7 linked regions of the Homo sapiens genome follow. The protein of the gene in region 7 interacts with the protein of the main gene of each other region in a biochemical or structural test. Each region holds a gene or a part of one and is shown on either strand. Other genes may lie near its edges.

What was found.
Region 1: the proteins of DVL3 (region 7) and GNG4 interact in a test that uses a peptide from one of them, tested with the Homo sapiens proteins (one large-scale study listed by IntAct).
Region 2: the proteins of DVL3 (region 7) and MYOZ3 interact in a test that uses a peptide from one of them, tested with the Homo sapiens proteins (one large-scale study listed by IntAct).
Region 3: the proteins of DVL3 (region 7) and ABCC6 interact in a test that uses a peptide from one of them, tested with the Homo sapiens proteins (one large-scale study listed by IntAct).
Region 4: the proteins of DVL3 (region 7) and SORCS3 interact in a test that uses a peptide from one of them, tested with the Homo sapiens proteins (one large-scale study listed by IntAct).
Region 5: the proteins of DVL3 (region 7) and TRIM29 interact in a test that uses a peptide from one of them, tested with the Homo sapiens proteins (one large-scale study listed by IntAct).
Region 6: the proteins of DVL3 (region 7) and HDAC7 interact in a test that uses a peptide from one of them, tested with the Homo sapiens proteins (one large-scale study listed by IntAct).

What each region holds. Positions count from the first base shown.
Region 1 is NC_000001.11:235,639,785-235,643,284, reverse strand, and holds part of GNG4 (guanine nucleotide-binding protein G(I)/G(S)/G(O) subunit gamma-4), read left to right. Parts: intron 1-444; exon of another isoform or gene 445-1,020; intron 1,021-1,036; exon of another isoform or gene 1,037-3,242; intron 3,243-3,500. UniProt on the Homo sapiens protein: Guanine nucleotide-binding proteins (G proteins) are involved as a modulator or transducer in various transmembrane signaling systems.
Region 2 is NC_000005.10:150,664,251-150,667,750, reverse strand, and holds part of MYOZ3 (myozenin-3), read right to left. Parts: intron 2,238-3,500; exon of another isoform or gene 1,720-2,237; intron 1-1,719. UniProt on the Homo sapiens protein: Myozenins may serve as intracellular binding proteins involved in linking Z line proteins such as alpha-actinin, gamma-filamin, TCAP/telethonin, LDB3/ZASP and localizing calcineurin signaling to the sarcomere.
Region 3 is NC_000016.10:16,150,495-16,153,994, reverse strand, and holds part of ABCC6 (ATP-binding cassette sub-family C member 6), read left to right. Parts: intron 1-3,222; coding exon 3,223-3,417; intron 3,418-3,500.
Region 4 is NC_000010.11:104,647,790-104,651,289, reverse strand, and holds part of SORCS3 (VPS10 domain-containing receptor SorCS3 precursor), read right to left. Parts: intron 1-3,500. UniProt on the Homo sapiens protein: Plays an important role in modulating synaptic transmission and plasticity in the hippocampus, probably by affecting the trafficking and localization ofAMPA-type glutamate receptors in the postsynaptic density.
Region 5 is NC_000011.10:120,135,314-120,139,252, reverse strand, and holds the start of TRIM29 (tripartite motif-containing protein 29), read left to right. Parts: upstream 1-1,139; 5' UTR 1,140-1,221; coding exon 1,222-2,025; intron 2,026-3,939.
Region 6 is NC_000012.12:47,785,563-47,788,903, reverse strand, and holds part of HDAC7 (histone deacetylase 7), read left to right. Parts: intron 1-739; coding exon 740-859; intron 860-1,094; coding exon 1,095-1,192; intron 1,193-2,200; coding exon 2,201-2,319; intron 2,320-3,018; coding exon 3,019-3,152; intron 3,153-3,341. UniProt on the Homo sapiens protein: Responsible for the deacetylation of lysine residues on the N-terminal part of the core histones (H2A, H2B, H3 and H4).
Region 7 is NC_000003.12:184,158,377-184,161,876, forward strand, and holds part of DVL3 (segment polarity protein dishevelled homolog DVL-3), read left to right. Parts: intron 1-3,500. UniProt on the Homo sapiens protein: Involved in the signal transduction pathway mediated by multiple Wnt genes.

The sequences.
Region 1 (3,500 bases), on a different chromosome or scaffold from region 7:
AGGGCGGCCAGCAGGGGCCCAGGGTCATGAAAGAGGAGTGGAGAGAGCAGAAAGGTTGCTCAGAGCCGGGGTGTGAAGGTGAGACTGACCGTGAAGAATGGGGAATCCAGGGCCATTGTCAGGCAGAAGCAGGAAGCAGCAGGCCCCACCTTGGCCGTCTGGCTGTGACTGCCATGTGGGGAAGGTCGGAGGCGTGGGGCAGGAGAGGGAGGACAGGGAGACTGGATAACGCCCAAGGGTGCCCCGGCCCCAGCGTCAGTCGGGGTGGCCGTCTGATTGGAAACAGAGGGCCAGGGAGAGGCTGGTGTCTGGGATCCCAGGGTTTCCAGACTGAGCATGGATGGACGAGGGGTAATGTGACCTGGTTTTGTGAATGAAGCTGGGCAAGTAGAGAGAGGGTGTATGACTTGCCAAGTCAGGAGGTGACATCGAGGGGGCATGTACGTGCAGAGCTGAGCAGAGGTCTGGCTGGACCCAGGTGAAGCCACAGGGGCGAGATTGCCTGGGGTGATCCGAGGTGTGATGACAGCAGGGAGGCCCGCGCCTCCAAGAACACACGGCAAGTTTAGGACAAAACAAATATCCTTCTGTAGGAGGCACACCCTTTCTTACACAGACTTTCATGCATAGGATTCCCTTAAAAGAGACCCTCCCAACCCTGCCCTCTCCCTGGCCCCCTGCCCCTCCTGCCCGCCTCTGCAAAACCACAGCCAACCCGCCACCACCTCGCCTTCCTGGATGACTCATTCTTTCTGCGTTGAAGCAGTTGCATCCTGCCTCTTGTTTATGATTTCTTTGTCCCTCTGATGCTTACGGATTGGCTCGGACGCTGTTAGCACCCGTCTCTTGCTGCAGGCCCACGTCGGGGAATCACAGTGTATCATCCTTCCGTGCGTGGGTCTCTATTCGAGAGGGAGTTTCTGTTCTATGTTTTGCTCAGTTGCCCCCGGTCACTCTTTTCCCACCCCCAAGCACCAGTGGCCTCGAGGCGGAGGGCTGGCCTTGGCCCTGCTTCACAGTAACCGCGGCAGCTTACCCGCGACACCTGCACGGGAGCGGGGCCAAGGCTCACCCCGCCCCTGCCGGGCCTCGCTCGGGTTCTTCCACCCTGCGTTCGCCTCGGACCGCTGTGGTTAGCTGTGAAATGCCCCTGCGGTCTGGTTTTCTCTCCTTTTCCGCACGGTTCTTAGTGTGTTATGTTGCTTTTCCGCACTGTACGTTGGAAGCTCTAGGGCTACGAAAACGCAGGCAGTTGCGGGGGAAGCGAAAAATCCCCGCCCTCATGGAAGTTCTGTTACGGTGGAGGAATCAGACCAATGATAAGAAGTCAGAAAATCAAAAGTAGTTTAAACAAGTACATGAATAAATAAGCATTTAAGATATAGTAAGTGCATGAGAGAAAAATAAAACAAGGCTGGGAGGTAGGGAATTCCGGGGAAGGGGGTGGCTCACATTTTAAATAGGCTGCTTGTGGGAGGACCTGCCATGTTGATCCGAGGTTAAGGTGACCTCCCAAATGAGCTCATCTGATGCACGTGGAGCCAACAGGTGAAAGTGTTGATGGAGTCACAGATTATTTATTTATTTATATTTTTAGGTGGAGTCTTGCTCTGTCACCCAAGTTGGAGTGCAGTGGCGCGATCTCGGCTCACTGCAACCTGCACCTCCCAGGTTCAAGCCATTCTCCTGCCTCAGCCTCCCTAGCGGCTGGGATTACAGGCGCCCGCCACCACGCCAGCTAATTTTTTGTATTTTTAGTAGAGACAGGGTTTCACCATGTTGGCCAGGCTGGTCTAGAACTCCTGACCTCAGGTGATCCGCCTGCCTCGGCCTCCCAAAGTGCTGGGATTACGGGCGTGAGCCACTGTGCCCCGCCGATTATTTATTTAGTTTTAGAGGCAGGGTCTTGCTCTGTTGCCCAGGCTGGTGTGCAGTGATGTGATGGTATTTCATTGCAATCTTGAGCTCCCCAGTTCAAGTGAGCCTTCCACTTCAGTCTCCTAAGTAGCTGGGGCTACAGTTGCCCACCACCATGCCCGGCTAAATTCTTTTAAAACTTTTTGTAGAGATGGGTTCTCACTATGTTGCCCAGGCTGGTCTGGAACTCCTGGCCTCAAGTGATCCTCCCACTTCGGCCTCCCAAAGTGCATAATTACAGGCATCAGCCACTGCACTTGGCCTACAGATTAATTTATGCCCAAGTGCCTTCCTGACAGAATAAGGTGGCTTTCCCCTCCTCTCACCCCTAGCATATAAGAAAGCTACATTAACCAAAAGGAGTATTTGGTAGTGTAACTCAAGGTAGAGGAAGAGACAGAGATTCTTTTTGCAAAATGACACGCAAGAAGCAGCCCCTTCTCACTCCAAAGTGGGCCTCTTCACAGCCTGGCTGTTTTGTGGGTGCTCCACCCATCCAGGGACTGGGGCTGCTGGGCCCAGTGACCTCTGACCTGCCAGGCGCCAAGCGGCAACAAAAGGGAGGGAGAGCTCTGGCCCACCGGGCAATTTGACTCTTCCTGGAGCCCTGCAGGGGGTGGTGGCCCCGAGAGGCTGGATCAGAGACCCTCAGGTCCGAAGGTCTGGTGGGCTAAATGAAGTAGAGAGGCCGCCCTCAACTCCACCCTGCCGGGATTCAGGCGGGCTCAAGGACGCAGCTTGGCAAGGACTGTCTTATGTATTCGCCTTGATGCGTGGTCTGGCAGGTTCACTGTAGTCTGTTGAATGATGTGTGTATCCTTTCTTCTGTTTTACACACCTGTTTTGAGAACCATTTACTTGTAGCACAGTCTGTGTATAAAGCCTAAGGTAGATGCAGCAGTGGTTCTCAAACCTGGCTGCATACATTTTGGGCAGTTTTTAAAATATCCCTTCTTGGGCCTCATCCCCTGGACATTCTGACATAGTGGGTCTGGGCTAGGGTCCGGGAATTAGTCTTTGAGTTTTGCAGCCACCAGATTTGAGATGCATTGAACCAAATGATTTCTGTGGGTCCTTATTCCTGATATCTGATTCCCCCCAACCTGCCTAAGCATCCCCAGGCTCTTGTGTCCTATGCCAGCCTCTCCCGCTCCTCGTGGGGCTGTGAGGGTTTGACCACCGTAAGCATGATGTGCCTGCAACACCAGGTCTCCTCCCCAGGCTGAATGCATGGATCTGTCCTCTTCTGCCTGGGGTGAGAGACAGCCTTCTCTGTGGGGAAACCAGCTACCACCCTGAAGAGCTGCCTCTGTCAGAGCACAAGATCCCCACCTAGAGACCCCCTCACTGCTCCCCTCCCACAGCAGCAACGGCAGCTCTGAGGTTCTGGACACCCCAAAGGACACAGACCTACCTTCACCCATGAGCCGTCCAGGAGACATTTGACAGCTGCTGTGTGCCATGTCCTAGGGGTAGGAATGCAAAATAAGTCAGAGGCCATCCCTGCTCCTGAGGCATTTACAATCCAGTGAGGGAGACAGAGGATTATAACACAACACAGAGCGGGGCACGGTGGCTCACGC
Region 2 (3,500 bases), on a different chromosome or scaffold from region 7:
AAAGAGAGAAAGAGAGGATTGGTAAGAACAATATAGACAACTGCTTGGAAGAGTTGGGCTTTAAAGGATCCTGGCTACAGACAGCTATGGGATCAAGAGGGGTTTGTTTGTTTGTTTGTAAAAATGGAGAAATAACAGCATGTGCGTTAACTGACGGGAACATTTGACAATGCAATAGAGAGAGGGGAGAATTGCTGAAGGAATGTCCTTGAGCAGGAGTGACAGGAGAGCTGGGTTTCCAGAGCCCAGCCAGAGGAATTGGCACCAGGCAGGTATGAGGAGAGTCCATCCACCATATCAGAAAGGAAAACCACAAACACGGGTGCAGATGCAAGCAAGTAGACAGATGTGGCGGAGGATGCTTGCAGATGTTCTCTTCTGGTTACTCTATTTTTCTCAGTGGAATAAGAAGCAAGGTCTTTAGCTGAGAATGAGGTTGTGCAAGGAGGTATTGGAGGTTTGAGAAGAGGGGTTGCCAAAGTCATTAAGAGAGTAGCATGAGATAGTGAATGAACTAGGGAGATGGACATGGCTACCAGGCAGTACTGGGGGTCACTTGGGTGCTGTGATTCATGCCAGTCAATGGAATCCTAAATAGCTGTCTAAAAAGGACACTGATTTTTTTTTATTCTTTCAACGGACACATAAAGGACACTTTTTATGTGCTAAGAACAGAAAGAAATCCACTTATAGGCCGGGCGCAGTGGCTCACACCCATAATCCCAGCACTTTGGGAGGCAGAGGAGGGTGGATCACTTGAGGTCAGGAGTTCAAGACCAACCTGGCCAACATGGCAAAACCCCTTCTCTACTAAGAATACAAAAATTAGCCAGGCATGGTGGCGTGTGCCTGTAATTCAGCTACTTGGGAGGCTGAGGCACAAGAATCACTTGAAGGTGGAGGTGAAGTTTGCAATGAGCTGAGATCATGTCACTGTGCTCCAGTCTGGGCAAAAGAGTGAGATGCTGTCTCAAAAAAAAAAGAAAAAAAGAAATCCAGTATAAATTAATTGGAGGGGAAAGTAAGATTCAGAAGAATAGGTATTCTAAGATCCCATTTATATTATATATTATATAACTATATTTTATATATATGTGTGTGTATATATATATATATATATTTTTTTTTTTTTTTTTTGAGACAGAGTCTTGCTCTGTTGCCCAGGCTAGAGTGCAGTGGTGCAATCTCGGCTCACTGCAACCTCTGCCTCCTGGGTTCTAGTGATTCTCCTGCCTCAGTCTCGCAAGTAACTGGGACTATGGGCATGAGCCACCACGCACGGCTAATTTTTGTATTTTTAGCAGAGATGGGGTTTCACCATGTTGGCCAGGCTGGTCCCAAACTCCTGACCACAAGTGATCTGCCCGCCTCAGCCTCCCAAAGTGTTGGGATTACAGGTGTGAGCCACCGCGCCCGGCCCCCATTTCTATATTAAAAAATAAGTATGTGTTTTTGCATGCATTGAAAAATCTGCAAGGAGACATGCCAAGGAGACATGTCACCACAGCAGTGACCATGGGACATATAAAGGAGGAGGGTTGGAAATTGTTTACACTGTTTTGTTGTAACTGTTTTTAACAAGAAAGTGTACTGCCTACTTAAAAATATAAAAGAATAGTTATACCTAAATACATAATAAAGCACCCTCAGTATCATATTCTGAAATACTATACAGATGAGCTGAGCTCAATATTGTTCTTTTTTTTTTTTTTTTTTTAGACGAGTTTCACTCTTGTTGCCCAGGCTGGAGTGCAATGGCATGATCTCGGCTCACTGCAACCTCTGCCTCCCGGGTTCAAGCGATTCTCCTGCCTCAGCCTCCCGAGTAGCTGGAATTGCAGGCATGCACCATCACGCCTGGCTAATTTTGTATTTATAGTAGAGATGGGGTTTCTCCATGTTGGTCAGGCTGGTCTCGAGCTCCCAACCTCAGGTCATCCGCTTGCCTCAGTCTCCCAAAGTGCTGGGATTACAGGCGTGAGCCACCTCCCCCAGCTGAGCTCAATATTTAAAAAAAAAAAATGGCAGGCACAGTGGCTCACAACTATAATCCCAGCACTTGCAGAGGGCAAAGTGGGTGGATTGCTTGGGCCCAGGAGTTCAAGACCAGCCTGGGCAATATAGCAAGACCCTGTCTCTATTAAAAAATAAAAAAAGATAAAATCTATTTGACTGAGTATTTCTATTTCTAGGAATTTATTCTCGGGGAAAAAGTTGAATAAATATGTCCAAAGATACATGTATAAGAATGTTTATTGCAGTGGGGTTTAAAATTGTGAAAACTGGGACTCAGTCTCGTGGTGGATGCTGCCAGATGCCCCTTATTAGTGGCTAAGAGTTCACACCACCACCTTCTACAGAGAACTGCCAGTGGAATGGATGCTCCACAGCGCCCTTGCCTCAGGTGGGATGAATTCTGTGGAGCAATTCATGCTCGAGAGCTCCCCGCGGGGTCACACTGAACTGGACAGCCGCTGAGCCCACATCCTCGCTCAGCAGTACCCCACCCTAGGCTGCATTCCTCCTTCCCTTCCGAGAGCACGTTCTCAATAAGTCACTTGCACAAGGCTCCTCTGTTCTGCCCCGAAGGATCTCACCCCAGACAACCCTCATCAGGGGATGGTTAAACACACATGACGTGTCCAAACAGCAGAAAGCTGGTAAGCACGGGGAAGGAAGGCGTGAGATAAATCATACTAGGATGGAATGCTGCTAAATGAAAAAAAAAAAAAGCCAAAGAACATAGCATATAGTATTTAGCCCATGTGTATGTATGTTTATATAAAGACATTCATATATGAACAGAACAAGAATTTACATAAATATGTTAACAGTGGTTATCTCCAGATGGTTCCATTATGATGAACTTTCAAAGCCGTTCATGTCTGTTTTGTCTGAATTAAACAAATTTTTTTAATGTATGCCAAGTCAATGGCAAGTGAATTTTTTTTTTAAAAAGTGATGTATTATCATTGTAACCATGTAATAAAGAAACAGCTCTGAAGACAAAGAGACCTGGAGTCAAATTGCAGCTCTACCACCTACCAGATGTGATCACCTGCTCCTCTGAGCCTCAATATTCTCATTTCCAAAATGAGGAGAATATCTAACTTAGGGAGTTGTGGTGGGGATGAAATGACACAAAGCATAAAGGATACTTTTCTCTTAGCAAAGTATCTGCCACATAGTAAGCATGCAATGATGGTAAACATTTTTATAACTTTTACTTTACAGTGGCCGTCTTTAGGTAGTGAGATTATGAGATTTATTTTTTCTTCCTACTTTTGTTTCAAAATTGTCTTTAGTCAGTACCTTAGCAATAATCAACAAGTTATATATTTCAAGTCTTGTATCAATGATGTGTCTCCATATTTGGGGGTCTGTAATGAACTCCCCAAGAGAAAAGAGAATGCATTGCCTGACCCTTCTAGTTAGAGCGTCAGTACCCATAGAATGTGCATATTTCAGCTACAAAATCAGGGTAGGGGAAGAAACTGGAC
Region 3 (3,500 bases), on a different chromosome or scaffold from region 7:
CTGGGCTTCGTCTCAACAACAAAAAGCTGTGTGGAAAGATACACATAAAATTTACTATCTCAACCTTTTTTTTTTTTTTTCTTTTTCTTTGGAGACAGGGTCTGGCTCTGTCATTCAGGCTAGAGTGCAGTGGTGAGGTCAAGGCTCGCTGCAACCTCCACCTCCCAGGCTCAAGCATTCCTCCCACCTCAGCCTCCCGAGTAGCTGGGGTTACAGGTGTGAGCCACCAGGGCCAGGTAATCTTTTTATTTTTTGTAGAGACAGGGTTTCACCATGTTGCCCAGGCTACAGTCGAACTTGCGTAGGCCTCCCAAAGTGCTGGGATTACAGGTGTGAGCAGCCACGCCGGGCCCATCTCACCCATTTTTCAGTGTATAGTTTCTGTAGTGTTAGGTACATTCACACTGTTACACAACAGAACTACAACTCTGTACCCATGAAACCCTAACTCTCCTTGTCCCCTCCCCCAGCGCCCAGCCACCAGCATTCTCCTGTCTCTCTGAGTGTGACTACTCTAGACACTGCATAGACGCAGAATCATAGGATCTGTCCTTTTGTGACTGGCTTATTTCACACAGCATGATGTCTTCAAGGGTCATCCACATCGTAGCATGTGTCAGATTCTCTACCTTTTTAAGGCCGAATAATTTTCCACTACATGGATAGACCACATTTTGCTTATCCGTTTATCTGCCAGTAGATACCCAGGCTGTTTCCACCTCTTGGCCGTTTTGAATAATGCCACTATGAACATAGGTGTATAGGTATATGCCTTTAGAAAAACCAAAGTGGCTGGGCGCGGTGGCTCATGCCTGTAATCCTAGCACTATGGGAGGCCGAGGCGGGTGGATCACCTGAGGTCAGGAGTTCAAGACCAGCCTGACCAATATGGTGAAGCCCCGTCTCTACTAAAAATACAAAAATTAGCTGGGTGTGGCGGCAGGCGCCTGTAATCCCAGTTACGTGGGAGGCTAAGACACTGAGACAGGAGAATCGCTTGAACCCGGGAGGCAGAGGTTTCAGTGAGCCAAGATTGTGCCACTGCACTCCAGCCTGGGTGACAGAGTAAGACTCCGTCTCAAAAAAAACAAAAAAAAACCTAAGGTGTTCTGGATTTATAAACCCCTCTGACCCTGAGGGTGTCCGAAGGGCTTGTGGTAGGCAATAATTTCCAGCACTAGAGAGGCAGCGTTGCTTGGTGGGTAAGAGTATACACAGGTGACAGACTGCCTGGGCTCAAATCCAGGCCCCCCACCCCACACCCCCACCCCCGCCCCGCCCTGCCACTTACTAGCTGTAGGATCTTAGGCAACTTATCTTGTGTGCCTCAGTTTCCTCATCTGTAAGGTGGGAATAATAGCACCTACCTACCTTGCAAGGATTGAATTATATGCACAAAGTTGTTGAAACAGTGGCAGGCATAGAGCAAAGAGTAAATACTCATTTTAGTCCTGAGTCACACTCCTGATAACATCATTTCACAGAGTTGGAATTGGAGGCCTGGGGCTTGCCTGACGTCACACAGCTTAAAAGTAGTGAGGTTGGGACAAGACCCAGGCACTCTAACGCCTGCATGACCATAGTAGGTTCTGATCATGTAAAAGGATGCTGTTTCATGGAAGGGCTTACTGTGCAAGACAGCCATGCTGGGGCCCCAGGGGTCAGTTCCCACCTGGGTCAGGGGCTCACTGGGCTCACAACCTGGAATCTCAACTCCTCCACCCTCCACGAAGGGTGCTACTCCATGCCAAGGGCTTATTCTGTGACAAGCCTACACACTTTTTTTTTTTTTTTTTTTTTTTGAGACAGAGTCTTGCTCTGTCGCCCAGGCTGGAGTGCAGTGGCGCGATCTTGGCTCACTTGCAAGCTCTGCCTCCCGGGTTCACACCATTCTTCTGCCTCAGCCTCCTGAGTACCTGGGACTACAAGCGCCCGCCACCACGCCCGGCTAATTTTTTGTATTTTTAGTACATACAGGGTTTCACCGTGTTAGCCAGGATGGTCTCGATCTCCTGATCTCGTGATCCGCCCACCTCAGCCTCCCAAAGTGCTGGGATTACAGGTGTGAGCCGCCGTGCCCCGCCACCCACACACTTTTATGTGCCATGTCGTCACGATTCAGCGAGGACGGATCCATTAGGAGCACAGACTCTGGGGTCAGAGGACTTGGGTTCAAATTATGGACCCACCACTAGCCTTGAGACCTTGGTCAAGCCACTGAGCTTCTCTGTATCTGTGTCCTCTTCTCTCAAAAGAAGAGAACAATAATATCTACCTTGGTGGACATTATGAGGATTGAGTGAATATATACAAGCACTTAGAATGTGTTTGGCACAAGGTGGAAACTAGAAATAGAACTGGACATAGCCATAAACAGGCCAGGCACGGTGGATCACGCCTGGAATCCCACCCAGGTGTTGTACACATCTGTATTTAAGGCCCACGTGACACCAGCCTTGAATGTCTTAGGAAGACTGTAGATTTGATTCTTGAAGCAGCAGTCAGTCATTGTAGGTTTGTTTGCAACGGCATGACTGAAGTGAAAGCTGTGCTTTCGCTGTTGGGGGAAATATAAATTAGTACAGTCACTATGGAAAATAGTATGATGATTTCTCAAAAAACAAACTAGAAATAGAACTACCGGGGCGCAGTGGCTCACGCCTGTAATCCCAGCACTTTGGGAGGCTGAGGTAGGTGGATCACCTGAGAGTTTCAAACAAGTCGGACCAACATGGTGAAACCCCATCTCTACTTTAAAAATACAAAAGCCAGGCATGGTGGCGCATGACTGTAATTCCAGCTACTTGGGAGGCTGAGGCAGGAAAACTGCTTGAACCGGGAGGCAGAAGTTGCAGCGAGCTGAGATTGTGCCATTGCACGCCAGCCTGGGTGGCAGAGCAAGACTCCGTCTCAAAAAAAAAAAGAAAAACGAAGAAGAAAAAAAGAGCCATAAACAGAAAAAAGAAAATAGCCATTTCACAGGTGGGGAAACTGAGGCACAAAGGGTTTGAATGACCTGCCTACAGTCAGCCTGCTCAAAGATGGCAGGAACAGGCTTCCTATCAGTTCTGCAGACCACAGACCCCAGACCCCATGTGTGGGGATGCCTGAACACAGGCACCTCACTCCTGCACTGCTTCAGGGACCTGTTTCTGGGCACACCCACACATCACCATGTGCCGACAAACGCACGTCCCAGCTAATTGTCCCAATCGTTCCCAGCGTGGGCCAGAAACAGCTCCTGTGTCTGGCACGTGCCCTTCTCCGGAAGACCCAGATCCTCATCCTGGACGAGGCTACTGCTGCCGTGGACCCTGGCACGGAGCTGCAGATGCAGGCCATGCTCGGGAGCTGGTTTGCACAGTGCACTGTGCTGCTCATTGCCCACCGCCTGCGCTCCGTGATGGACTGTGCCCGGTAAGGCTCCCGCCCCGGCCTGACCTCACAGCAGCCCTGCAGTGGTGGGGGAAGGAGGCGGAGGCAGTCCTGGGCCACTGGGC
Region 4 (3,500 bases), on a different chromosome or scaffold from region 7:
GCTGTGGCTTAGGGACCTTCTCATGACAGAAAAGACGCTTTAGAGTTTTGAGAAATCTTTCAAACAAAAGTTTGCTTTCAAGCATGAATAACACTGAAAGCAACACAGTGAGATAAGCAACTCTTTCACCACTAAGGATACCCTCCTCTTCCACCACCACTCTGGAAAACAAGTTTATCTGTGTCACCAGCTTCATTGTCTCAGAACTCTTATTGTAGACAAGTTCCCCCACTATGTGTAATCACATTCAGATATGGCAGCTTGAGCTATTTTTCTAGTCTTGAAAATGTTCAACTCAGTCATTGTTCTTCATCTCCCACTGAGAACAGATTTTTAAAAGAAAAAGTTTATTTCTTATGCAGCAGTGTAATCTGTAACCTGATTCTAACCATCTGAATGAGAAACTGCCTACCTCACCATAGATGTCAAAAAGGCTTCTGGGAGGATGTCAGGCACGTGGGACCTGAGAGCCTGTGAGAGACAGCCGCAATGTCCCAGAGTGCAGATCCCAGGCCAGCAACAGCAGGCCAGACACTACTCCATCCCCAAGACACTTGTTCTTTACCCAGGCACTTTTAAGTATTTAAGCAAGTATTTATTCTGTTCAACTCAATAAGCACCTATTGACTTAACCACCAGATACAAGAGAGCAAGGAAGCAAAAAGGAAGGAAATACAGAAGCAATGGGAGAACCTAGCCTAAGCATCACTTCCAGCTGAATCTATTTGTAGAGTGTTAGTTTGGTCATTAATGGTCTGAGTATCTAACTGCTGAATGAACGTGTTTGTATCTATTCCCCTTTTTTCTGTAGGAAGAGGCTGAATGATCAGCCCCCCCCAGGATTGAAAACTGTCCTGCTGCCAAATGATTATTCATCTATGGATCATCATACAACCCCTACACAATTCACTTACAGTCTACTTTTCATCTTCCCTCCTTCGGAACAATTCCTGGTACAGCATTGTCTTGTTATTTCATCCTATTTATTTTCACTTCTTTCCCAGGGCAACACTCCCTCTAGTGTCTATGTAGGGCTCTCAGGTTCCACTCTTGGTACACAGGGTGAAGGCAAAAAGGGAACTCAAGCCTACAACTCTATGGGTATAGATCACCACAAAGTAGTGGATTGTACCAGTGTGATAATTCTGGGGAACAGGCTGCAGATATTCTACAGATAGCTCCAATCCATGTGATATGCCCATTTCACAACAGGCACAAATACAGAAGAGGAAAGGAAAAATGTAACATTGAGGTCTAGCCCATGACTTTGGCATACATGAGTCTTTGGCACAATGGGATCTGCTTGTCAACCAGCCCCAGCAACCCAGTGTTCTCCAATGTTCTAGTAGCTACACACTTTACTCACTTCCCTCAAGAAGTCTCCCTTGATTAGCTGTGAGTTGTATCATGGATGCCAATTCTGAGAGAAGCTACTCTTCATCTTTCTGGATCCCTTAACTCTCCATGCAATAAAAGCCCCGAAATAATGTTAAATTTATTCATAGCTTATTAGTGTAATCATCTAATGAATATTATTCTGTTTCTACTACAAATTCTGAGTATGAATTTCAAGAATACAGGTCCCCAGTCATTCACTTCTAGATCCTTTTCAATGTCTACTTTAGCACGACATAAAAGATAGACATGGCAAAGACTCATTGACTGGGGACATGAACTATGGGAGGTGGTTGAAATGAGCATCTTGATGAGAACTGGGTTCTAGCCAAGGCCTTGCCATCAGCTCACTGGGAAACCTTGAGCAAGTGCCTCCTTCCTCTGCTTCAACATTTCCATCTGAAAATTAAGGGAAGGCCCCTTCCAGATATAAAAATAACAACTAAACTAAAGTATCTTGAGTGCTTGCTACAAATGGGTCAGGCACTTCTTTTAAGCACTCTGCCCTGTACAGTCTCACTTAATTCTTACAACAGCCCAAGGTAGAGATACTATATCATCACTCCCTTTTTTCAGATGAAGAAACAGCAGAGAGGGTAACAACTTGCCCAATGTCACACAGCTATTAAGAAACAGAGGCAGGACTTGAACCCAGGCACCTGGCTGCAAAATCCATTGATCTTATTTAGTATGTGGCCTGTTTCAGGTTCCCAGTCTATCTGTTCTCAACAAATCCAGAAGAGGATTGCATTCATGATGAAATCTCTCCACAAATATGAATTCACACAAGTTGTACCATATACCCATACTAAATAATCCCACAACCCAATATAATCCTTGATTATCCTACATAGCTTTATTTCCAGTTTTTCCCCTAAAGAAGGTTTTTTCTCTTTCCAGTGCATGCCAAGTAACAGTCCCCTACTTAGCCAAGGGCACAGTTTTACTGACCAAGAACCCTGCTGGCCCCACTCTGCTGCAGGTCCCTCTCATCTCAACCAAGCAGGGATGGCTTCCTCTGATTCCCTGCATGCACTCAATAGCAGAAAACAATCTGTGCAATCCTGAGGTTCTTAGACTCCATTATTTTTTCCAAATTTACTATAGAACATTTATTAGTGTACTATAAACAACAGTATTTCTATAAATAATTAAATCCAAACTACACTGATCAAAATAAATGAGCAAAATATTCCTGGTTGTGATGTAACCAGGCTTGATTCACTCACTAACTCAAATTACAAAGTGACTCACAAGAGGCCCCCATTAACAATGGTTAGTAAGATACAGCTTGTCCAACATTAACTAGCTTGTTATTCATTGTCTGCAGCCACCGCGGTGGGTGGGCAGGTTGACTATAGAGTATGGCCCCAGAACAGAAGGAAAGAATCTATTCCTAAATCTCTCTAACTAGCCTCATACGATACCCATCCTGGGGCCTCAATCTATCCTACCTATAAAATGGGCACCTCATCAGAGTGAAAACACACAAATCCTCTTAGAAGGAAAATGCTCTGTTAACCTGAGAAGAAAGGAGAAAAATGGGTGTGAAGAGGGGATGGCTCTTCCAAGAGAAAAAAAAATAAGCAGGGTCCAAGGCAGGCTGCCATGTTTCTGTCTGAGCCTCATATCCTCATCTCTATCATGAGTGATTTGATGAAGACAATTCCCAAGTGCACTTCCAGTCTTGACATTCTGCAAGTCTCAAATTCCTGTAGTATGTCCCACAGGGATCCTCTCTTCTGCGAGCTCATAGCCTGAAACGATCACTTGACAATTAACCACATATCACCCCATGGCATCTGTCTTGTTGTCATGTGTTATTTAACTTTACAGAAGAGCAGTCTCACATCCAAAGCATGTCGGCAGGACCATGAGGCAAATGCTGTCTTATCCTTCTTTGTCTCCTCTCTATCACACTTCTACCAACCCCACAGTTTCTAGGACAATGCCACATACACAGGAAACACTCAGAAAATGGATGAATGTCTTATGGGGGTGTCCATCTGATCTCTGAAGTCCATGAGAAGCCAGGATTGTTAACTAGTCCTTATTTCTATCCTCTTACTAAGTAGTGTAGAGACCCCTCTGAATCTTATGTTAAC
Region 5 (3,939 bases), on a different chromosome or scaffold from region 7:
TTTTCTCACTTTTCTTCCTGAGGTCTGTATTTATATGATAGTCATATTTGAACAGGTGACTTCTGAGATTATCTGAATCTCACACTTTGCTGACCTCTTTTTGGAGGGCATTGCCTGTGGCCTGGCCCAGAGAGGATGGGCAGGTGTTTTCTGAGTCACACAGCAGACCAAGTGTGGAGACAGGTGAGAGTCAAGTGTTTGGGCCCTGAGGACCCAACCACCTGGGCTGGCATTGCTTGGATTCCCCTCATTGTTGTGCCTTGGTCATTTGAATCCACGCAGGTAGCAATAATCTAAGGTCTATATGTATCTTGTTGGGGCCATTGGGATAGGACAGACTCTCAGAAGCCATCTTCTGATGAGATATTCAGGTGACTCCATGACCACCCAGCTGAAGAAGGGACTTTGGCTTCTCAAAGGCTTAGGGTTCAAATCCCAGCTCGGCCACTTGACTTAGGCCAGTGAGTTATCTTCTTAAAGCCTGTTTTCTCATCTGTTAAAAAGGGGTAATTGAACAGGTTTTAGGGAAGCCTGAATGAGCTCGTAATATATGCAATACCTAGGAAAGTGCCTGGAGGTTGGCAAGTAGGGTTCAATACTCAGTAGCCAAATCAAATGGAACCCATCCTTCCCCCTTAAGGTGAAAAGCAGCGATACAGTCCCAGGGTGGACAATCTTTCCTCTGAAACTCAGGCCTGCAAATTACAAGGCTATTTGGCTTGTGTGACCCAGTTAACAGCCCTGTGTCTGGTAGGCCTCTGCAGACACCTCACCTTCTGCCCCAGGGGCCTCTGGGCTCAGTGAAGCCTGCCCACTTGTGAAGACGGAGACTCCCCGCTCCCCGGATGAGAAGCAAGTGCGTCAGAGGGAAGCAGCCCAACTGGTTGCTGAGTTGTGGAAAATAAGCTGGGGGAGAAAAAACACTTCTTTTAAAAATCAGGTTAGGGATGAATGTGCAGGGCGTGGTTCCTGTGCAATTATCTGCTCTGCTGGCTGCGGGGCTCCCTGCTTCTCCCGGGCCGCTGTGTCAGGCTTGTGCCTGTTGCTCCTCCCCTCCACTCCTCCCCCTCCTCCTCCTCCGCCTCCTCCCCCTCCTCCTCCTCACAGGTGTGTCTCTAGTCCTCGTGGTTGCCTGCCCCACTCCCTGCCGAGACGCCTGCCAGAAAGGTCACCTATCCTGAACCCCAGCAAGCCTGAAACAGCTCAGCCAAGCACCCTGCGATGGAAGCTGCAGATGCCTCCAGGAGCAACGGGTCGAGCCCAGAAGCCAGGGATGCCCGGAGCCCGTCGGGCCCCAGTGGCAGCCTGGAGAATGGCACCAAGGCTGACGGCAAGGATGCCAAGACCACCAACGGGCACGGCGGGGAGGCAGCTGAGGGCAAGAGCCTGGGCAGCGCCCTGAAGCCAGGGGAAGGTAGGAGCGCCCTGTTCGCGGGCAATGAGTGGCGGCGACCCATCATCCAGTTTGTCGAGTCCGGGGACGACAAGAACTCCAACTACTTCAGCATGGACTCTATGGAAGGCAAGAGGTCGCCGTACGCAGGGCTCCAGCTGGGGGCTGCCAAGAAGCCACCCGTTACCTTTGCCGAAAAGGGCGAGCTGCGCAAGTCCATTTTCTCGGAGTCCCGGAAGCCCACGGTGTCCATCATGGAGCCCGGGGAGACCCGGCGGAACAGCTACCCCCGGGCCGACACGGGCCTTTTTTCACGGTCCAAGTCCGGCTCCGAGGAGGTGCTGTGCGACTCCTGCATCGGCAACAAGCAGAAGGCGGTCAAGTCCTGCCTGGTGTGCCAGGCCTCCTTCTGCGAGCTGCATCTCAAGCCCCACCTGGAGGGCGCCGCCTTCCGAGACCACCAGCTGCTCGAGCCCATCCGGGACTTTGAGGCCCGCAAGTGTCCCGTGCATGGCAAGACGATGGAGCTCTTCTGCCAGACCGACCAGACCTGCATCTGCTACCTTTGCATGTTCCAGGAGCACAAGAATCATAGCACCGTGACAGTGGAGGAGGCCAAGGCCGAGAAGGAGGTAAGTGCTGGGGCCCCTCCTGCCCCTCCAGGCCTCTCCTCTCTCACCCCACCCCTCCGAACTTCATCTTCTCCACTCGGGCTTCCTCGGGTTTGGGGCTTAAGTTTCTACTGTCCTTGGCTCTTTTAGAAAACATTTATTTCCCCTCATGCCCCCTGTCCCCCCTAATCCCAGCTGGGGATCAGAGGTTGCTCCCCAATCCCCTAAGGTCTCAGGAGACAGGGACATTTTCTAGATGAGCGGATGGAGACTCAGAAAAGGTTGAGGGCCTGACCAAAGTCATAGGATAAATTCGAGTCAGGTTAGAGAGTATGACCCAACTGCATAGACCTCACTTCTGGGCTCTGTGCCTGGCTGAGGTGTTTCTTTCTTCTTCTTCTCCTTCTCCCTCTTCCTCTTCTTCCTCCTCTTCTTCTTCTTTTATTTTTTTTTTTTTTTGCTTTGAAGAAGAGATAATTCCTCCAACCTGAGTCGGACTGGCCCCTGGGGAATGGGTTGTGGGTGAGGAAAGATACTAGAAGGAGAGAATTTTGGGGCCCACTGAAAGGTCCTTCTTGCTGTCTTTGTAGTTTTTATTGTCGTACAGTGGCTTCTTGTTCTAGCTGATCCCCAGCTGGTCTCTTGACTTCCTCCACAGCCTCCTTTATCCTTCTCCCAGCTGGGCCCTGTGTTTTGCGTGTGTGGTTGTGTGTGGACACACATATTCCTGCAGGCGGACACCGTTGGGGAAGTTTGGAGTTTGTGTGTGGATGGCGTGTACGTGTACAGCTAGTCCCTGACTTAGGATGGTTTGATTTACAATGATGTGAAAGTGCTATGCTTTCAGTACAGTATTCCATAAAATCCAACACTTTATTACAAAATAGGCTTTGTAGTAGAAGATTTTGCCAAACTGTCGGCTAATGTAAGTGCTCTGAACAAGTTTAAGGTAAGCTAGGTTAAGCTATGATGCTTGGTAGGCTAGGTGTATTAAAAGCATTTTTGACCTATCACATTTTCAACTTACAATGGGTTTATTGGTAAATAACCCCATCACAAGTTGAGGAGCATCTGTATATGTGTTTATTTTATGTGCACGTGGGTGTTTTTGTGCCTTTGTGGATGTTTGCATGTATTCATATATGTGATACGTAAGTGTGTTTGCATGAGTTCTATGTGACTGTGCCTGTACTTCTATGGGGAGGAGCAGAGGCAAGTGCAGGCTTGTGGATGTAGCATACCTGGGGAAGGTGATTTGGGCAAAGGGCCCAGCTGTGGCCACTGCCCTTTGCCCCACAGATGTGGGGCTCACTCTTCCCTAAGGTACACAGCTTCCTGCTGTGGGTGGCCTTCCTGGGGCAAACCTTCCTGGCCTCCAAAGCAGTGAACTCCACTTTCCTGAAGAGCTTCTGCACACCTCAGATCTGGACAGCAGAGGATTCCTTCCTGCCCAGCCTTCCTGACCAGGAGGAGCTGGTTGATTACTCTTTCCCTTCATCTCTCACCCACACCCCTGGACAGAAAGGGCTGAGGTAGAGAGGGGAACAGACTCACAGATTCCTTCCAGAAGCCTCGTTTGGCCCAGGAAGAAGATGTTTCCAGCTTCCCCCATCTTCTGACCCCAGCGTGGCCTCAGGTTTCATACTGAGAGATATAGATGGGACGGGGCCATGAAACTCATTCTAGGGAGTTTACTTGGGAGGTTAGACAGAACAAGAGGCAATCATCCTCATCACAGCAGCTGAGAAATTGCAGAGCCTCAGACAAGGTTTTAGGAAATGTGACCGAGTTCCAGTCCCAGTTTTTGCCTCTAACTAACTGTAAGGCTGTGAATAAGTCCTTTCCACGCTCAGTCTCATTCTCCCAAGGGGTGAGGCTAGATTGTTGGTTTTCAAATTACCCCACAGAGCCCTGGAATTCTTAGACATGTCTTCG
Region 6 (3,341 bases), on a different chromosome or scaffold from region 7:
ACATCCAGACACTGATGGTTTTACACATGATGGATTTAATCCTGACTATAACCCACTTTACAGATGAAAGTGAGCACAGAGAGATTAAGTAACTCACACACAGTCATTCGTAAGTCATGAGATGGATTTGAACCCAGGCGGGTTAGCTCTAGAGTGCTTGCGTTTAACTGCTAAGCTATGTCCCTTCTGCACTGACAGCTGTGTAAGAGACATTTCTAAGCAGAAGTTGAGAGCGGTGGAGGACCTTTGCACACTTGAGTTCCCGCATGGTCCTGTGAGTCGAGTGTAGGGCCCAGCTCTCCCTACGAGGGATGGGGCTGGGCCTCGTGTACCTGCCCCTCTGTAACCGAGCTTGGTTTCTGATCTCCTCATAACTTCATGACTTTATGCAAGACAGAGTGGTTCCTGATATGTGTAACCCTGAACCCTTCCCTCTCCTTGCCACTAACCCCATGTCCACACAGTTACTCTCTCAGGTGGGCTGGCCTGAGATTGGGACACCTCCTCTCCTTCAGGATCTCATATTACAGCCAGCCCTGTCCAGCACAGAGAGGCCGAGGTTCAGAGCCGGGCAGTGGATTACGTGGGGCCACTCGACCGTGTGGCTTTAGGAACCCCAGGTTCCTGATCCCAGTCTAGGGTCCTGACCTCAGAATGGCCACTGACCTTGAAACCCTTCTAACCTGTCCTGGCCCCCATCTCTCTGCCTTCCCTAATCGCTGCCCGTCTCCCTACACAGGACGTGCACCATGGCAACGGCACCCAGCAAACCTTCTACCAAGACCCCAGTGTGCTCTACATCTCCCTGCATCGCCATGACGACGGCAACTTCTTCCCGGGGAGTGGGGCTGTGGATGAGGTAACCGCATGTCAGGGCCACATCTTCCAGCCTCATTGACCTCCTCCTGACACTTACTCTGCCTCTGTCATGACGAGCTGTGTGATCCTGGGCAGACTGCTGAGCCTCTCTGATCCTAAACTTCCCCACCTGGAAATGGGGAGGCTGGATGAGCTGGGCTGGCAGCTCTAACAAACTGGTGTTCCCCTTCTGGGACTCTGCTGTCCTCATGTCTCTCTTGCCTCCTGTTTTCCAGGTAGGGGCTGGCAGCGGTGAGGGCTTCAATGTCAATGTGGCCTGGGCTGGAGGTCTGGACCCCCCCATGGGGGATCCTGAGTACCTGGCTGCTTTCAGGTACGTGCTCTGGGGGCCCAGAGGGGCAAGTCCACCCTCTCCTGTCCCTTCTCCCAAGAGCACCAGGGGGGAGGTGATCAGTTGGATTGTCAGCCTGTCCCCACCAGTTCCTAGACATTGTAGGTGAACGCCAGTGAGAATAGGACAAACAGAGAGAAGAATGCAAAAGTCAAAGGGTGCTTTGCAAAGGCATACATTACCGAGAGCCAATGTCAAACTGATTGCTGGCAGGTGGGTGGTGGAGTGAGCAGAGCTGGCACATTTAGTCAGAGAAGGCTGCCACTCTATTTGGGAAAAGAGAATTCTGGAAATGGATCTTCAAACACTTTTCTGGAGTTATCTCCATGACAGCTAATTCTACGAGAGCCCTGGGCTGGAGTTCCTGGAGTCTTCTCAGAGCCCAGGGCTATGAAGAACACCCAAGCAGGCCCCAGAGTTGGATCAGGGGTAGAGGAAGGCAGCTGGGGGGGGGCCTGGAAGAGGGAGAGGATGAGAGAATGTAGCCAGGTGGCGCAGAACCTCAGAGGACCTAGTTGTCCCCTACTCAGCTCTCAAGTAGTGAGTAGCTGGGTGTGGTCAACTCAGTCCAAAGGACTGAGCACTTGTAGTCCCTGAAGCTTTGTGACCAGAGTCCATCTCCGCAAGGCTGTGAGATTACCCTTTCCCTGTGGCTCCGGCCACTGCACCCCACAGATGCTTGCATGCACACACACACATGCACACACACATGGTCACACACACTCCTCTTTCATTCCCTCTGGTGCTCCATCCTTGGCTCCTTTCTGCCTCTTGCTAGTTAAGTCCCCTAGGGGGCTGAGTCCTTAGGCTGTGTGTGCCAGGGACATGGGTGGCCAGCCAAGGTCAAGGAGGTCAGAGAAATCTGCCAGTTGTGCTGGGGCACTGGGAGCCTTGGAGTCCTAAGAACAGGGTGCCCCACCGCAAAGTTGGCAGGACCGCCCCTGGCAACCCTGCACAGTACGATGATCGCCACTTCTTGTGACCTCACAGGATAGTCGTGATGCCCATCGCCCGAGAGTTCTCTCCAGACCTAGTCCTGGTGTCTGCTGGATTTGATGCTGCTGAGGGTCACCCGGCCCCACTGGGTGGCTACCATGTTTCTGCCAAATGTAAGGGAGCCTCAGCTGAGGGGGACGTTAGGGACAGAGAGCCAGGCGGTGCGGGGAGTTGGGAGGCACTCCCAAGTCAGAAAGGGAAGGTGGCAGTGGCCAGCCCAGGGCTTTCAGCCTGAGGACTGGAGTATGGCAGCTGGTCCTGAAATTCCCCGGGATCTCCTAGCCGAGCACAGCCCAAGCCCTTTCTCAGGACCAGGCCGGTTCACCACGGAGGGCTTGACCAGGTCATACCCATGGGGACTTAAGTCCAGTAGGCAGGAAGCTCAGCCGTGGGACTCCCCACCACAGCTGGGTTGATTCCAGGTGGGCTGGCAGCTCCTCCAGAGGAAGGGGAGAGAGAAGCAGCACTCTCAGAATAGAGGGTGGCCACAGGGCCCAGAGTACAGAAAGAAGAGAGGGTGTAGCTCAGTGAAAAAGACACAGGCTAGAGTCAATGACCCAAGTTCAGGTCCTACCTTGCTGCCACTTACTAGCTGTGGGGCCTTTCCCAAGGCCCTTAACCTCCCTGAGCCTTGAGTGAAGCATACTAGTAGGTTTTGTACGACATTCAATGTGAAAGCACTTTGGAAATAGTGATTGATACATGTGAGTCATTCTTTATTAGGGAGGAAGCAAGCAGGGAAGCCACAGGGGTAGAGAACAGGGTCACCTCTCCACTCCCGCCCCTCCCATTTCTCCCCTCCCAACCTCTAGGTTTTGGATACATGACGCAGCAACTGATGAACCTGGCAGGAGGCGCAGTGGTGCTGGCCTTGGAGGGTGGCCATGACCTCACAGCCATCTGTGACGCCTCTGAGGCCTGTGTGGCTGCTCTTCTGGGTAACAGGGTGAGCCGTCTCCCTCCCCCATCCATGCTTCTGTCAGGCAGGTAAGCCCGGCTCTCAGGACTACCCAAGGAGCAGGCAGATGGGATGGGACAGGGTGGGAGTGGCCAAGCCTGAAACAAGGTAGGCGAAGCGGAAGCCTCTGTTCCAAGTTAGGTCCAGGCAGCATCTCCTGGCCTAGGTAGAGTGTGC
Region 7 (3,500 bases):
ACTTGCCTAAGGTCACACAGCTAATAAGAGGCAGAGCAGAGCTTGCTTTGACATCAGGAATCTGGATCCAAAAATCTAAATCCTTAATCGCACAATTTTAGGTGTCATTATTATCACCATTTTACTGATGAATCCTCTCCGAGGGAGGTGGTAAGCCTTGGAAAACTGTAGAGGTGACAAGGCCACCATTTCTCCGAGCCCCACAAGAGGAAGGTCAGGCGGAGGTCAGTGACCCTAGAGGAAGGAAAGTGGGTCAGAGGAGGAAGGCTGCTGTCTCTCCAGTTTCTCCACTCCTGGCTCAGCCTTTGAGGTGCTAGTTGTGAGGCTCCTCAAGTCCCATCTGGTCTACAAAAGTATTTGTCAAGCTCAGGGTAGGCCCAGCCATCTTTTTAAATTTTTTTTCTTTTTTTTTTTTTTTTGAGGAGTTTTGCTCTCGTCACCCAGGCTGGAGTGCAGTGGCGCAATCTCGGCTCACTGCAACCTTCGCCTCCCGGGTTCAGGTGATTCTCCTGCCTCAGCCTCCCAAGTAGCTGGGATTACAGGCATGAGCCACCATGCCTGGCTAATTTTAGTATTTTTGGTAGAGATGGGGTTTCACCACGTTGGCCAGGCTGGTCTGGAACTCCTGACCTCAAGCAATCCACCCACCTCGGCCTCCCCAAGTGCTGGGATTACAGGTGATGAGCCACCGCGCCTGGCCTGCCATCTTAAGTTATTTGAGAAATGGAGGAAGGATAAACATTTTCAGCATTGAGGGCATGGTGGATGGTTCATAGAAGTAAGGTGCCTACTGCTAGTCTGGCCTTGAGCTGTGAGAGAGGGCAGCATGGCGATCAGGTCATTAGCTGTGTGGCTTCCTGCTCCACTGTCCTCCCTCTGGGCCTTCCACCTGCAGACTCTTCTTCCCCTGTCTCCTCCAGGTTCAAATTCTCCTGTCTTCTGGGTTGAGCTTTTCTGTGAGAACTGTCATGGCACTCTCTTATTTTATCCTTTTTTTTTTTTTTTGAGATGGAGCCTGGCTTTGTCACCCAGGCTGGGGTACAGTGGTGCGACCTTGGCTCACTGCAACCTCTGCCTCCCGGGTTCAAACGATTCTCCTGCTTCAGCCTCACAAATAGCTGGGACTACTGGTGTGTGCCACCACACCTGGCTAATTTTTGTATTTTAAATAGAGATGGGGTTTTGCTACGTTAGCCAAGCTAGTCACGAACTCTTGACCTCAAGTGATCCGCCCACCTTGGCCTCCCAAAGTGCTGGGATTACAGGTGTGAGCCACCGTGCCTGGTATATTTTATCTTTATATCCTGACACCTGTGTAACACTCAGCAGATGTCTATCCATTGAACACATGTGCTGCTCCTACGGCTCCAACCACTTCCTGGATTGCAGTATATTTCCATGAACTATCCACTGGACCATAGTCTCTCTGAGAACAAGGCAGGCTCTGGGTCTGATGTTTCATGAGAAAACCTACAATAGCAAGCTCAGGACCTGAAACCCACTGGGCCCTCAGCCAAAGCATTTTATTTTATTTTATTTTTATTTTTTTATTTTTTATTTTTATTTTATTGTATGTTTTTTGAGAGGGAGTCTCGCTGTGTCGCCCAGGCTGGAGTGCAGTGGCACGATCTTGGTTCACTGCAAGCTCCGCCTCCTGGGTTCACGCCATTCTCCTCCCTCAGCCTCCCGAGTAGCTGGGACTACAGGTGCCCGCCACCACGCCCTGCTAATTTTTTTTTTTTTTTTTTGGTATTTTTAGTAGAGACGGGGTTTCACCGTATTAGCCAGGATGGTCTTGATCTCCTGACTCATGATCCGCTCACCTTGGCCTCCCAAAGTGCTGGGATTACAGGCCTGAGCCACCGTGCCCTGCCAGTCAAAGCATTTTAATTGGATGAACAATGAATGATGAACAGGTTTATTTGCTTTGCCCTTAATAATGTATACGTAGTTAGAAATAGTGTATGGATCCTGCTAAAAATGGACAATATAATTAGCTTTTACTGTATGCCTGGATCATGCCAGGCATTTAAGGATCCCTTTTACCAGGATGAGACAAAGGCTTGGAGAAATTAAGAAACTTCTCTAAGATAAGAGGGCCAGTAAGTGGTAGAATTGGAATTTGAGTCATTATTTGTTTGACTCCATTTGGGGTATGAGTGTGTGTGTGTGTGTGTAAGTGCTATGTAAACCCCAGCCATTCAGCTCCATGGTGGGAGAGTAAGACCTGTCTGAGGTTCCCCAAAGCTGCTGAAGATCAGCTGATTGTTTTGAGTCAGCAGAGCCTTGGTGGCCTGTCGATGACCCCCAGAAAGAGAGGAAACGTGTAGTGTGGAGCAGTGTGGTGGGGCCTGCCAGGGGAGCAGGGAGGTAGGGACTCAGCAGCAATTTCCCCCAGACAGGCAGACCCTATCCAAAGCAGGCTGTGCCATGTGGCCCACATATTCCCTTTTCCTTTGAGCCCTGTGGGGCTGCCAACCTGGAGTACCCTGTGGCCAGAGTGGCTGGTGGGTCTGAGCTACCTCTGTGTCCCTTCTTTCTAGCCTGTCCTTTCTACACTTTCTGCCATGGTGGGCCGCAGTAGGATGATTTGGGCTGCTTTCCGAGGGTCGCTGTGGCTCTGGGAATGATAGAGGAGCCAGAGCTGGATGGGAGTGGGGAGGGCAGGCTTGGCCTGTGAACTTGGCTGTGAGTCCAAAAATGTGAGCATCACAAGGGAGCCAAGCACATTCCCAGCTCTGGGCAGAAGCTGCTCTAAGAACAAGGGGGGCCAGGCACGGCGGCTCACGCCTGTAATCCCAGCATTTGGGGAGGCCGAGGTGGGCGGGTCACCTGAGGTCAGGAGTTCAAGACCACCCTGGCCAACACGGTGAAACCCTATCTCTACTAAAAATATAAAAATTAGCCAGGCGTGGTGGCAGGCACCTGTAATCCCAGCTACTCGGCAGGCTGAGGCAGGAGAATCACTTGAACCCGGGAGGCGCAGGTTGCAGTGGGCTGAGATTGCACCACTGGACTCCAGCCTGGGTGACAGAGCGAGACTCCGTCTCAAAAAAAAAAAACCAAAGAACAAGTGGGGACTGAACTTCCCAACCTCCTCCTTGCTGTCTTCCCTCTCTGCTCAGAGCTCCTGGCATGCGTCATCTTACCCTTGGTCATGTCTTCCCATCTCTGTACTCCTGGCATATTTGACAGTCTGAGGGTCCTCAAACTTTTCCACTCCCCTTCCTAGCCCCAAACTGTAGTTACTGCCTGACTTCTTGCCTCACCACATTCCCCCGGCCAAACTACATGCTCCGTGACCACATTCCACACCCTTCATGCCTCACATCATTGTCCTCCAGCACCCACTCTCCACATAGACCCACATTACCTCTGTTATTATATAGGAAAGAATGTGAAATACAGTGGAAAGAGTATGGATTTTGGAGTCAAGCCTGGGGTGAAATTCCAGCTCTGACATCTACCAGTCCTGTGACCTTGGACAAGTTAACTGAATA